Homo sapiens: one gene and its partners. The protein of the gene in region 2 interacts with the protein of the main gene of each other region in a biochemical or structural test. Each region holds a gene or a part of one and is shown on either strand. Other genes may lie near its edges. The genes, in order: GRM1, CABIN1 and MEF2D.

The links.
Region 1: the proteins of CABIN1 (region 2) and GRM1 form a complex in vitro, tested with the Homo sapiens proteins (one study listed by BioGRID).
Region 3: the proteins of CABIN1 (region 2) and MEF2D form a complex in vitro, tested with the Homo sapiens proteins (2 studies listed by BioGRID).

The regions. Positions count from the first base shown.
Region 1 is NC_000006.12:146,026,870-146,030,687, reverse strand, and holds the start of GRM1 (metabotropic glutamate receptor 1 isoform alpha precursor), read right to left. Parts: upstream 1,627-3,818; 5' UTR 1,171-1,626; coding exon 471-1,170; intron 1-470. UniProt on the Homo sapiens protein: G-protein coupled receptor for glutamate. Ligand binding causes a conformation change that triggers signaling via guanine nucleotide-binding proteins (G proteins) and modulates the activity of down-stream effectors.
Region 2 is NC_000022.11:24,056,096-24,059,913, reverse strand, and holds part of CABIN1 (calcineurin-binding protein cabin-1), read right to left. Parts: intron 3,723-3,818; coding exon 3,554-3,722; intron 688-3,553; coding exon 551-687; intron 1-550. UniProt on the Homo sapiens protein: May be required for replication-independent chromatin assembly. May serve as a negative regulator of T-cell receptor (TCR) signaling via inhibition of calcineurin. Inhibition of activated calcineurin is dependent on both PKC and calcium signals.
Region 3 is NC_000001.11:156,499,204-156,502,803, forward strand, and holds the start of MEF2D (myocyte-specific enhancer factor 2D), read right to left. Parts: upstream 1,573-3,600; 5' UTR 1,283-1,572; intron 678-1,282; exon of another isoform or gene 229-677; intron 1-228. UniProt on the Homo sapiens protein: Transcriptional activator which binds specifically to the MEF2 element, 5'-YTA[AT](4)TAR-3', found in numerous muscle-specific, growth factor- and stress-induced genes.

The DNA of each region.
Region 1 (3,818 bases), on a different chromosome or scaffold from region 2:
GAAAATCTTCAACTGTTAAAGAAAGATAAAGCTTTGAAGTCCTATTTGTGGAATAGTAACTTCTTTTTGCCAATCACTCACACTGAATTAACTCATTACACCTGGAAAGTCATAGCCAGTCACTGAAGGGCAATATAACACCTTGGACAAATAAGCCTTCCAAACGCAAACTCAAAATATGAGGGCAAACAAGTATTCAAGTCAAATCTACTGCTGGACACTTTGCATGGAAAGTTTGATACCCTTTCAGCTCCTATTATCCTCAGATATTCTATGGGGTACAATTTTCCTACACTATAATTGTAAGGAAATGAGGATAAAAGGCAATGCCTGGGTGGGCAGTACTGAGAAGGGTAAACTCCGTTCCCCACAGTGCTAGAAATAAACAGGAACAATACTATGATCCCAGGAGCACATCATGCATTGCCCTGACTTTCTCAGTACCCTTCTTTCCCAAATATAATGCCTACCTTCCGTGTGGACTGCAGAGACATAGGTCCAATTGTAACGTTTGACTATGTCAAGCATGGCCCTTGCCTGCAAAGTGTCAGAAGGGACAACCCTCAGGAAGTATTTGTACAAAGTTTTGTCACTCAGGTCGATGCTTGTGGCTGAATAAGCGATCTGGGGGATGTCGAAGAGCTGGAGCAGGTTCTGCACTTGAATGGCTACAGAGCTGGAGCCGGGACCGATCACTCCCGCAATGGGCTTCTTAGTCCTGCCTGGGGGGAGGGACTGGCCGTCAGGCAGACACCGGTTGATCCCATCCTTCTCATCTCGAATGGAAATCAGAGAGTCCCTAATGAACTCAATGCTCTGTTCCAGAGCCACGGAAGAGTGCCAGCAGGAGTCCCGGATCTCACTGCCCAGGGTGATGTTGGGCAGGAGGACCGGGTCCGCGTTGATCTTATCCAACGTGTGGAACATGGCCTCCACCCTCTGGATGCCATACTGCTCCCTGATCTCCCCACACTTCCTCTCGGGCACTTTCTCGGCCGGAGGCTGGTGATGGACTGAGAAGAGGGCTCCAATGATGACATCTCCGTCCATTCTGGCCACCGAGCGCTGAGACGACGCTCCTGCCAGCAACACTTTCCTGCCGGGGCTTCTGGGGAGAAGGGACACCTCCAAAAAGATCGCTGGGAAAAAAAACAAAAGGAGCCCGACCATGGTGGTGAGGACGAGGTCCACAGCCTGCCAGCCGCGTTCCCACGCTGGTCCCGCTGCAGGCTCCCGGCGCGCACCCCCAAGACGCCCAGCGCCGCCTCTCCCGGAGTGGTGCCCCTCGCCAACAATGGTCGTCCAAGGCCTTTGCCTCCTCCACCACCGCCTCCTTCCCCTTCGTCTCCTCCTCTGGGTCCTCCACGACCGCCTCTACAAGCTGGAGGCGTTTGTAAGGGAATTCGAGTCCCCGTTCTTCACCGGTAGTGCATCAAGGTAAATTGATCAAGAGTACAGTGGAAGTCGTGTTGGCAGCGGTGAGCTAGATGCTGCTGACAAAAGACAGAGAAAAATCACAACCTTGTCATCAGAGGACCTGTGTTAAAACTCTGGGGTCTATAATGTTAACAGTTGCCTTGTCCGTTTCATTTCGGCACATCCTGATATCGGCTGCAGGAACAGCTTGGAGCGCAGCTGTGGTCACTGAGGAAGGCGGGGTGTCCTGCCCCCTCTGTCCTCACGGGTCCAGGCGGCGCAGAGCCCCGCCAACTCGCCCGCTCCTCCAACCTTAAGTCGTTTCCTGGTCCCCTAAAACCTATCATGCTTTCTAACTTGGAGGGCGGTGGGGAAGGTGAGCAGAGAGGAGGGGAGGAGCTAGGTCCTTCAACCCAAGAGAACTTTCCGGATTGGAAAAGATCAACTTTTTTTCAGAAGAAAATTTGGAAACTCATTGTAAAGGTGGAAGCGCGACTTTAAAATAAACGTAAACAAAGGATGCACCTTTTACTTTAATTTTGAGGGGTTGAAGAAGCCCTGACATAAAATCAGCTGTAAATATAAATTTGCCAGCTTGAAGAAAATCCACATTAGTTACTAAGGCAACGCCTGGTAAAGTCTCCGTATGGAGGAGTTTGGTATGTTTCCCCCGTAAGAAGTCAGGCTTGCTGTGTATGTTCAAGAAGAAGGGGTGCAGATAAGGTAACTTGTTTCCCGCGGTGGGTGGACGGGTTAGGGGGGGTCCTGCGCTTGCTTTGGGGTTTGCATAGTTGCTAGAAAGGGAACGGAGGGGAGCTTCCGGGTTGCTCTCGCCGCGGCAGCCTGAGCCCTGCCGCCTTCAGGACCCTGGACAGTGCTCGGTCCAGCCAGACATTCCCTGGCAGGGCCTGCAAGGGACGCTTTGACCAGTGAGTTGCAATTCCCTGACCCGCTTTGCTCTTTCAACCTCCCTCCTCTGAGTTCTTTACCCATACACACACACACACACACACACACACACACACACACACACACACACTCCCTTCCACTCGAGTCCCCACCGCCCCTCCGCCCTCATTCTCATCACCTTGCACCGCTTGTGCAGGTATATATCCAAACCCACCCGCTTGGGGACAGAGGCGCCAAATCTCAGCCGCCTGCGGGGCTGAAGTTGGCTCCCTCTCCCGTTCCTCCCCTGCTCCTTTTCTCAAGGTGAGAGTCGACGAAAAGGGGGCTATGGGAGCGGGCGAGGAGAGCACAGGAGGTGAGGCAGAAAAAGGAGAAAGAAAACCCAGGCACCCATTGGTCCCGACTCTTCCTGAGGATACAGGACGAAAAGAAATACATAAGCGAGAATGCGCCTGGGACCCGGAGGAAAATCTGATAGACTGGGACTTTGTCTGCCGTTGTGGGTGGGTTTCACCGGAGGAAGTGTCCGCTCACCTGAGTCTGTTTGGAGGACATGGACTTGAGACATACCTGAGTACCTGAGTCGGGGTAGACAGCGCTATGGTCCCGGGGCCAGAGGACCGTGGCCACGCTCGGCTTGCAGACGCCTCAGCTCTAATCCAGACGGTGCAAGGATGCGATCTGGGCTGTACACTAGTGCCCTCTTTCTTCAGCACTATTTTACCGCAAGGGAAAAAGAGGGGGAGGGAAGAAAAAAAAAAACAGGTCACCCAAGGCTTGTCTATTATCTCATGTATAAAAATCAGTCGTTTGATAGAGGGAGGAGGGGAGACAAACTAGGAGGAAGTGGGGAATATTAATTCCTTTACTATATGAGGGGTCGTATAGAAGCTGCCAGATACGTGAATAGTCAGACAATCTGGCCAAAGAAGTGGAGAACTGCCTAGGCTGCTTTGGGGTAGATATCTTTGTATATATATCTCAGGGACTCAAATATATTTTCTCTTTCTGCGAGTAAAGTCCCTACAGAGGGAAACAGAGTGTAAACACATGTACAGACATCTAAAGAAAGGCTCTATTAGTAGATTGCAAGGGAAATCAGGAAGAGGCTGCATAGGGTGGGAGAAGGGAAAGGACAGGCATGCCCATTATGAATTAAGGTATGCCAAATGAAGAGAGACATATTGTGGCTGCATTTTCAGGTCAAGATGTAACTAAATTGAGAATGAGAGTCAGGTCACATGAAAATACTGGAGTGACAAATACTTATCCAAATTCCTCCCAGGCGGCCATCACCTTCCCTACAGGTCTATGGTGTTGCTTCTGACTGTGTGAAAAGCGGAAGTTAAATCACATTCCTCTGGGAACATGTTGGCTGAGCAGAATGTGGCCCGGCTTTTTCAGGGGAAAAGACAAGTGACAGTGTGTCTTTCTACTCTTGTTCAAAGCTTTCTATTTGTGTCATCTGCAGAGCAGAGAGATCAGCTTACGTT
Region 2 (3,818 bases):
AGCAAGAACAACCTGACTTGAATAAAGAGTACCTTCCATGCCAGGGTCTCCTATTTACTTTGGGACAGTAAAGACTGTTCCCTCCCTCTACCATCTGATCCAGGTGGACATGATACCACGTTGTGGTGCTGAGATCAGGCTACTGGGTTCAATGCCTGGCTCCAACCCTCAGCAGCTATGATTGAGCCTCTCTGAATCTCCGTATCTAAGGTGGACATCAAAAGGGCAGACCTCCAAGTGCTGCCATGTGCACTAATCTCACTCAACAGTTATACACTGATACACACTCAACAGGTGTGCTTATATAGATTCAATTTGCAAAGCGAAGTCTCTGAATTTGGCCATAAGAAAGCATAGCAAGTATGAGCCTGGACATTTCAGAAGACCTCCAAGCTGACCACAGGGCTTAGGTCCAAGACTAATCCAGGCAGACTCTTGGCCACACTAAAAAACACCCCAGAACCATTCTCCCAGAACAAAACATAAGCAGGTTATAGGATAGTGGGAAGAAGAATTCCCAAAGTGAATGGTCACACTGCTCGATTCCTACCAGATTCCATGAATGTGGCTGAGTCAAATGACAGCCTTTGAGGCCCAATGCTTGGGAAGCTTTCCAGTTTGGCTTCTGACTGGACTTCATAGTTATTAAAGGAATCATCTTCCTCCTCAGGGTCCAGCTTTCTTAACCTGCATGTAACATGCCAAAATCACAAAGTCACAACACACGTTCTGACACAAGCATCTGAACTCTTCCTGTTAGAGAAACTAAATCTGAGTCAGGAAGAAGGCAGCTAAAATAAGTGGGTGGTGGGGTCCAGAACCCAGGCCTCCAGGAGGCTCTGCCTCTCTCCAGGGCCTCATGAGCCAGCATTTGGTCTGTATCCTGTCTCGGTCATTCATCTCATCAACAGATGATTACCGAGCACCAGCTATGTGCCAGGCACTGTGCTAGGCACCAAATACAGCAGCCCTAAATGTGGCAGATCCTGCCTGCAGTAAGCTTACCCTCTAGAGAGACACAGCCAATAAGCAGGTACACAAACTAACCCAAATAAGGACCACCTCACAACAGAGTGCTTGAGACTATGGGTCAAAAGGGCCCTGCTTTAGAGAGCAGGGTCAGAGAAAGCCTTTGAGAGGGGATAATGTTCATGCTGACACACTGGAGGAGGAGAAGGGCTTGCAATACAAAGATGCAGGACAAGAACAGGTACAAAGGCACAGGCCAGAAGAGCACCTGGTGTGTTCTAGGACCTCATGGGAGCCCAACAACTAAGGTGGAAAGCGGATAGATAGGTGGGAGTTTGGGGGATACATCAAGCTCATCTGAACTTGGTCCTTCCGTGGCTCCTCACAAAGCTGTGGGTGGGCCCAGTCTCGGGACTGGGGATGCCTCTCCTGGCAGGCACTCCTCCCAAGGACCCATTTCAGCCAACCTTGTGGTGTTCCCTCAACCCAGAACCCCTGCAGCATAAACACTCAGGGCACTTGTGAATGTCTTCATTCACGTATTGCACACACTCCCAGGGTGACTCCATCAGGCGAGCTACCATGTTGCTCTTGCCTTGACCATTCAAAGAAGCAGAAACTAAGTTAAGTGTGGTTGCTCAAGATTGTAATCTCAACATTTTGGGAGGTGGAGGCAGAAGGACGGCTTGAGGCCAGGAGTTCAAGATCAGCCTGGGCAATATAGCAAGACCTCATCTCTACAAAAAACAAGAAATAAAATTAGCTGGGCATAGTGGTGTGCACCTGTGGTCCTGGGTATTCAGGAGGATCCCTTGAGTCCAGGAGTTCAAGGCCACAGTGAGCTATGATTGTGCCACTGTACTCCAGCCTAGGCAACAGGGCAAGACCCCATCTCTAACAAAAATAAACAACAAAGGAGCAGACACTAAACCACAAACGAAACCAACAACTAAAATGAAGATTAAAAAGAAAGTCGAAACCATCCAGGTAAATGGGACTAGGGAACAAGACCTTGGAGTAAAAAGCAGGGCTAAGGGGAATATAGGGTCACTCAAATCTCTTGGCACCATCAACCAAAGAACAATCCTGCAGTTCTTCCAAAGAGAAACTTTCTTCTGGTATTACCCCTTAAGAAAAATTCATCAGAAGGCACTGCAGCCCCACTTTGGTTCTGCGTCAAGTACTGAGAACAATCATTATTTCTAAGCATTTCACCTTCACCTCAGAAAGACAACAAATTAAGAAAATTAGGAATCTTGCTGTAAAATAAATTTACAAACCACCTAAAGCTTCTGGCTTCTCCTTCACCACTTTGATGTTGTTACCACTGAAATAAACTGTCATGGGAAAGAACTAGATAGTTTAACTCCTGTTTAAAGATGGCATATCGAACACATATGGTTAGCTCCCAAACTCCATTCCAGTAACAACGAAGGAGTAAAAAAGGTATAAACTCACAAAGACAGAAGATAGGCGAGGATGCCCCAGCAGACAAAAAATGTACCAGCCAACTGTTAGAAGGCAGATGGCCCAGTGCAAATGAAGAATGGTGTCTGCCGAGAGAGGCCTCTCCACTCAGCTAAGGGAGGAGAAAGGGGAGTATTAAGAAACCAACCCACTGGCACCATAAACTCCAGGAAGGCTCAGAAATTGAGGATCCTAAAGCCTCTGAAGGAGGTGAGCAGGCAAGGACAAAAAGCAGAAGGACTGGCCGGGCGCCGTGGCTCATGCCTATAATCCCAGCACTTTGGGAGGTTGAGGCGGGCAGATTACGAGGTCAGGAGATCAAGACCATCCTGGCTAACACAGTGAAACCCCGTCTCTACCAAAAATACAAAAAATTAGCCAGGCGCGGTGGCAGGCACCTGTAGTCCCAGCTATGCGTGAGGCTGAGGCAGGAGAATGGCATGAACCCGGGAGGTGGAGCTTGCAGTAAGCCCAGATAGCACCACTGCACTCCGGCCTGGGCGAAAGATCAAGACTCCGTCTCAAAAAAAAAAAGGCAGAAGGACTGGTGAAAACCTAAGTAAGAAGCACTGGGGACCAAGTCCCTCCCAGCTCTGGGGAGCCTGGTTCCTGCTTGTCCCCTAGGCTCCTGAGAAGCACTAAGAATGAGTGAAACCCAGGAATACTTCACAAGCTCCTCCTCTACCTTCTCAGAATGCAAGGGAATCCTGCTGAGCCTGGAGCAAATCAAGTAGACACGGACTCCCTGAAAGCAGGAGGGAAGCTCCCTTCCATGGGGTTTTCAGGGCATCTGCACCCAAGGCACAGCACCCCTCTGCCTCCCAGCAACAAATAGATGTCTTGTAAATACACAGGGACATGAGTATGTTGCTTCTAGCTCTCAAAAGATGAACAAGTCACAGCTCCTGACTTCAGGAATTTCAGAGGTGGGAAGAGGCGAGAAAAATCCAAGATCCTACTCCAGTGAGATTTGTGCTTCAGACATCTGCACAGATGTTATGGGAACACAGAGGAGGAGACCAGAGAAGAGGGTGGCAATGGAATGAGAAATGTTACTGATGGTGTATGCTGGAGCTTTGTGGGTTTGTTTCTGACAATCAGAAAAAATACACAGTACCTGGACGGCAAGAACTTCATCAGAAGCTCCTGGAAGTCTACTTTCTCTTCTTTTTTGCACTTGGTGTTTCGGACACGGGCAGACCGCCGCTTTGCTGTTTCTCCACTCTCTTCTGAAATCTTCTTCCGTTTTACCCCTTTCTTGGATTTATCTCCCCCAGAAATATCACCTTCACAAAGAATGCAAATTAAAATCTTACACGGTGGCAGGGATGAAAAAAATGCACCACACAGACACATCAATCTCCCTCTTTTATAAATCTACT
Region 3 (3,600 bases), on a different chromosome or scaffold from region 2:
ACCCTGAATTGCTGCGGAGACCCACTGAAGGGATAGGAGGAGGAGTGGATAAGGGCCACCTCCACCCCAAAGCAAAGAAACCAGGACTCTGAGGAAAACTCAAATGGGGGTTGGGCACAGCAAAGAGGGACACAGGATCCCCCCCAACCCGCTATACCCTCCCCCAACCCATCAACAATGCACCAAGCAATGGGAGGCAGAGGGAGGCTCCCATTCAGAAGGGCAAACCTGGGATAACCCGGTCGGTGGCTTCTAGAGTGCCTTCCTTTCAGGAGGAGTCCTCGGAAGGCTGCTGAGAGGACAGCGTGATTCACTAGGGGGAGGGGGCCCCTTTCCCCATCCCCCTAAGACCCGAACCTGGTAGGAGAGAAGCTGGCATTGGAGTGGGGGACTAAAAGCATTTTGGTCTCCTTGGCCCATCCTCCCAAAAGCCCCCCCAAACTCCCTAAACCCCCGCTCGCAGCCCAGCTCCGCCTGCCATAGGTGGAAAGGACTAGAGAACTCTTGCCCAGATGTTGAACAGCTGCAAACTTCTGGCCAGGGAGTTCTCCAGTTGGGGTTACTGACAAACCACATCAGGGGTCTCGGAAGCGGGGCTAGGAGGTCTCAAGGAAGGGTCCTGCGTGCCCACCTCGTGGCGACTCCGCGTCCCAACTCCACAGGCACCCGGCAAACACGGGCCCCGGAGACACACACACTCACACACCCCAACCCACTACCCCGGTGTCATCTGAACAACATCCCCCCTCCCTCCCCCGCTTCCCAAACAGCTGCGGCTCCCCCCGCCTCCACCCTCCCGCCGCCCTCCCAGGCCCCCTTCTGCACCATTTCGGGCCAAGGAGGAGGGAACAGGCGGCGAGAGGAGGGAGAGGGAGGGAGGGCCGGCTGTTAAAATGTCAGTCGCTCCCGACTGTCACCGGAGACCCCCTCGGAGGATGGCGCCCCGTCCCAGACCGCTCGGAGGCCGTCGTAAACCCCCTACACGAACAGGCGGGCGCGCCCCCAATCCGCCCGTCCCCACCCCGTACTCCCAACACCCAAGGGAATTGCAGCCCACTCCACTTGTCCCCCACGACAGACTCCCTGACACAAACAGTCCCCTAGGTAATCCCCGCCAACGCCACACGAAAACACGGCCCGCTTCGCGAGTTCCTCCCGGCCCGGGGGCTGCCCCATCCCACCCCTCAGGGGGACGGTCTAGACCACCCTCCACCCCAACCCCTGGACCGGGTGGGGGAGGGGGCCTCTTAAAGTGGCAGGCGCATTATTTTTCTCTACTCACCAGCCCGGCTGGGGGAACGGTGTTGTCACGGCAAAGAGCGGGTAGCCCTCGCCCCTGGTCCGGGGGATCTTCAACACCGGGAAGCCGCAGCTCCGGGCGGGGAGAATAATAAATGAGGCCGGCGTCCGCGCGGGCCCTGGGCGGCGCCGTGAGGCCTGGGCCCCCGTCGTGGGCGCGGGGGCCAGCAGGCGGGCGGCAGGCAAGCGGGGAACCGGGGCCGAGCGCCTGAGCCGCCTCGGCTGTTGTTGATATTTTGCTTCCTTCCTCCTTTCGGGCTCCAAAGGTAACTCCTCCAGCCCCCGGGAGTCGAGGCCGACGTAGGCACAGCTCAGCCTAGCTTGAGGGGTGGGGGGAAAGGGGTGACGGACAGGCGTGGGGGCCAATGGGAGGCACCTGTGGGGGTGGCGGGGCGGAGCCGGGGCTGGGGCGGTCCCGAGGACGCGGCCCCGCCCCTCGCTTCCCCAGGGCTGGCCGGGCCAGGCCGGGTCGGCCCCCACCCCACCGCCCTCCCAAGCTAGGCTGCGGCGCTGGGAGCGGCGGATCCCTCCGCCTGCCGGGAGGGAGGGAGGAAGGGACGAAGCGAGGCAAAGTAGGGAGGCGAGACCCAGAGGCCTTTAAAGGGATCGGTCCGCTCCCACGGTGCCCCTCGGAGCACGCCGGCCGCCCGCCCGCCCGCCTGGCGCTGCTGCCACCGCGTGCTCCAGGAGGTCCTTTCCGGGGAGGCCGTGCGAGCTGCACGCACACTCTCAACACGCGCCACCTCGGCACCTCCTCGCGGCCCCGGGCCCCAGGAGAGTTGGGAGGTGGGAGTCTAAGTAGATAAATTAAGGGGAGACTGGAAGTGGTGAAAAGCTCCCATCTCCCCCACTTGGTGTGTGACAAAGCCCCACTCACGGGCGACATTCTTGGGGTTGGGGGGTGTTACCTAGGGAGCTCAGTTGCTCCCTCTACCTGTGACAGGCCCCCTCCGGTCCCAGGGCCCGGCTCGGCAGACGCCCAGCAATTTAAAGCGACAGCTCATAGTTCTTGGGTGACCTAATCTCCAGTGCTTGCGGGGCCCCACAGCACTTACTGCCGAGGGGGCAATTTAAAGGGGCGGGACCCTAATTCCTCCCCACCTCCCGCCGCACAGTAAACACCCAGAAATGTCTTATTAAAGAAGCAGTAGTAGCTCTTTAAAATTTTTTATTTTTATATTCCTGGTTGCTCCAGGGTGTGGTGAATATTTACGTGCCCTACAACAGGAGTGTGGGTGCCATGCCTACTGGACAACTGACCCGTCAGGCTTCAGCATCCCTGTTACTTCCAAGTCCTGCTGCTTTCTCCCAAGAGCGTAAGGAAATGATGGCATCTGGCTTAGATCTCAAAGAACCTTGCAGAACAGAAGGGCACTCACTCAGTTCTTCACACACCCCGAATTTTTTTTTTTTTTTTTTTGAGACGGAGTCTTTCTTCGTCGCCCAGGCTGGAGTGCAGTGGCGCGATCTTGGCTCACTGCAACTTCCGCCTCCCAGGTTCAAGCGATTCTCCTGCCTCGCCTCCCCTCCCGCCTCCCGAATAGCTGGGACGACAGGCGCACGCCCCCACGCCCGGCTAATTTTTTGTGTTTTAGTGGAGATGGGATTTCACCGTGTTACCCAGGCTGGTCTCGAACTCCTGAGCTCAAGCAATCCGCCCGCCTCGGCCTTCCAAAGTGCTAGGATTACAGGCGTGAGCCACCGCGCCCAGACACACACCCTGATTTCTGGCTGGATCTGATTTACCGGACAAAGACTCCAATATATAGAGAGAGGCAACATGTCATTGTGGTTAGAAATGTCAACTTTGCCGTCAAGCTGTCCTGGTTCAGATCCTCACTCCACCATTCATTAGCTGTGAACACAGGCATATTATTTAACTTTCCCCTACCTCATGGTGACCATGACTAGAGATGGTGATAATAGTAGCTAACTCAGAAATTTAGTGTGAAGATTAAATTAGTTCTTCTAAGCAGATTGCTTAGTACAGTGTCTTATGCTGTATAATAACCCAAACCAGACCATTGGGCCAAGGGCTGGTCTGCAAAGAACCCTCTAGGCCTCCATTGGCTCATGCAAGCCTTAAAGGAGGTGAGTTCAGTGGAATTGCTCTGCAAATAGGTTGGAGACTTATCTTGTGTGTCCTAAGACAGGAAGCCAGCAAGCTCCTACTTCCTTGGCCTCAGTTTCCAACCCTTCTACCTGACCCCCCCCTTTCAGGAAACAGTGTCCCACCGTGTCCCCAAATACAGCTTCTCAGTTCCTCATTGGATCTGGGAGGCTGGGGCCCCAACACCAGAA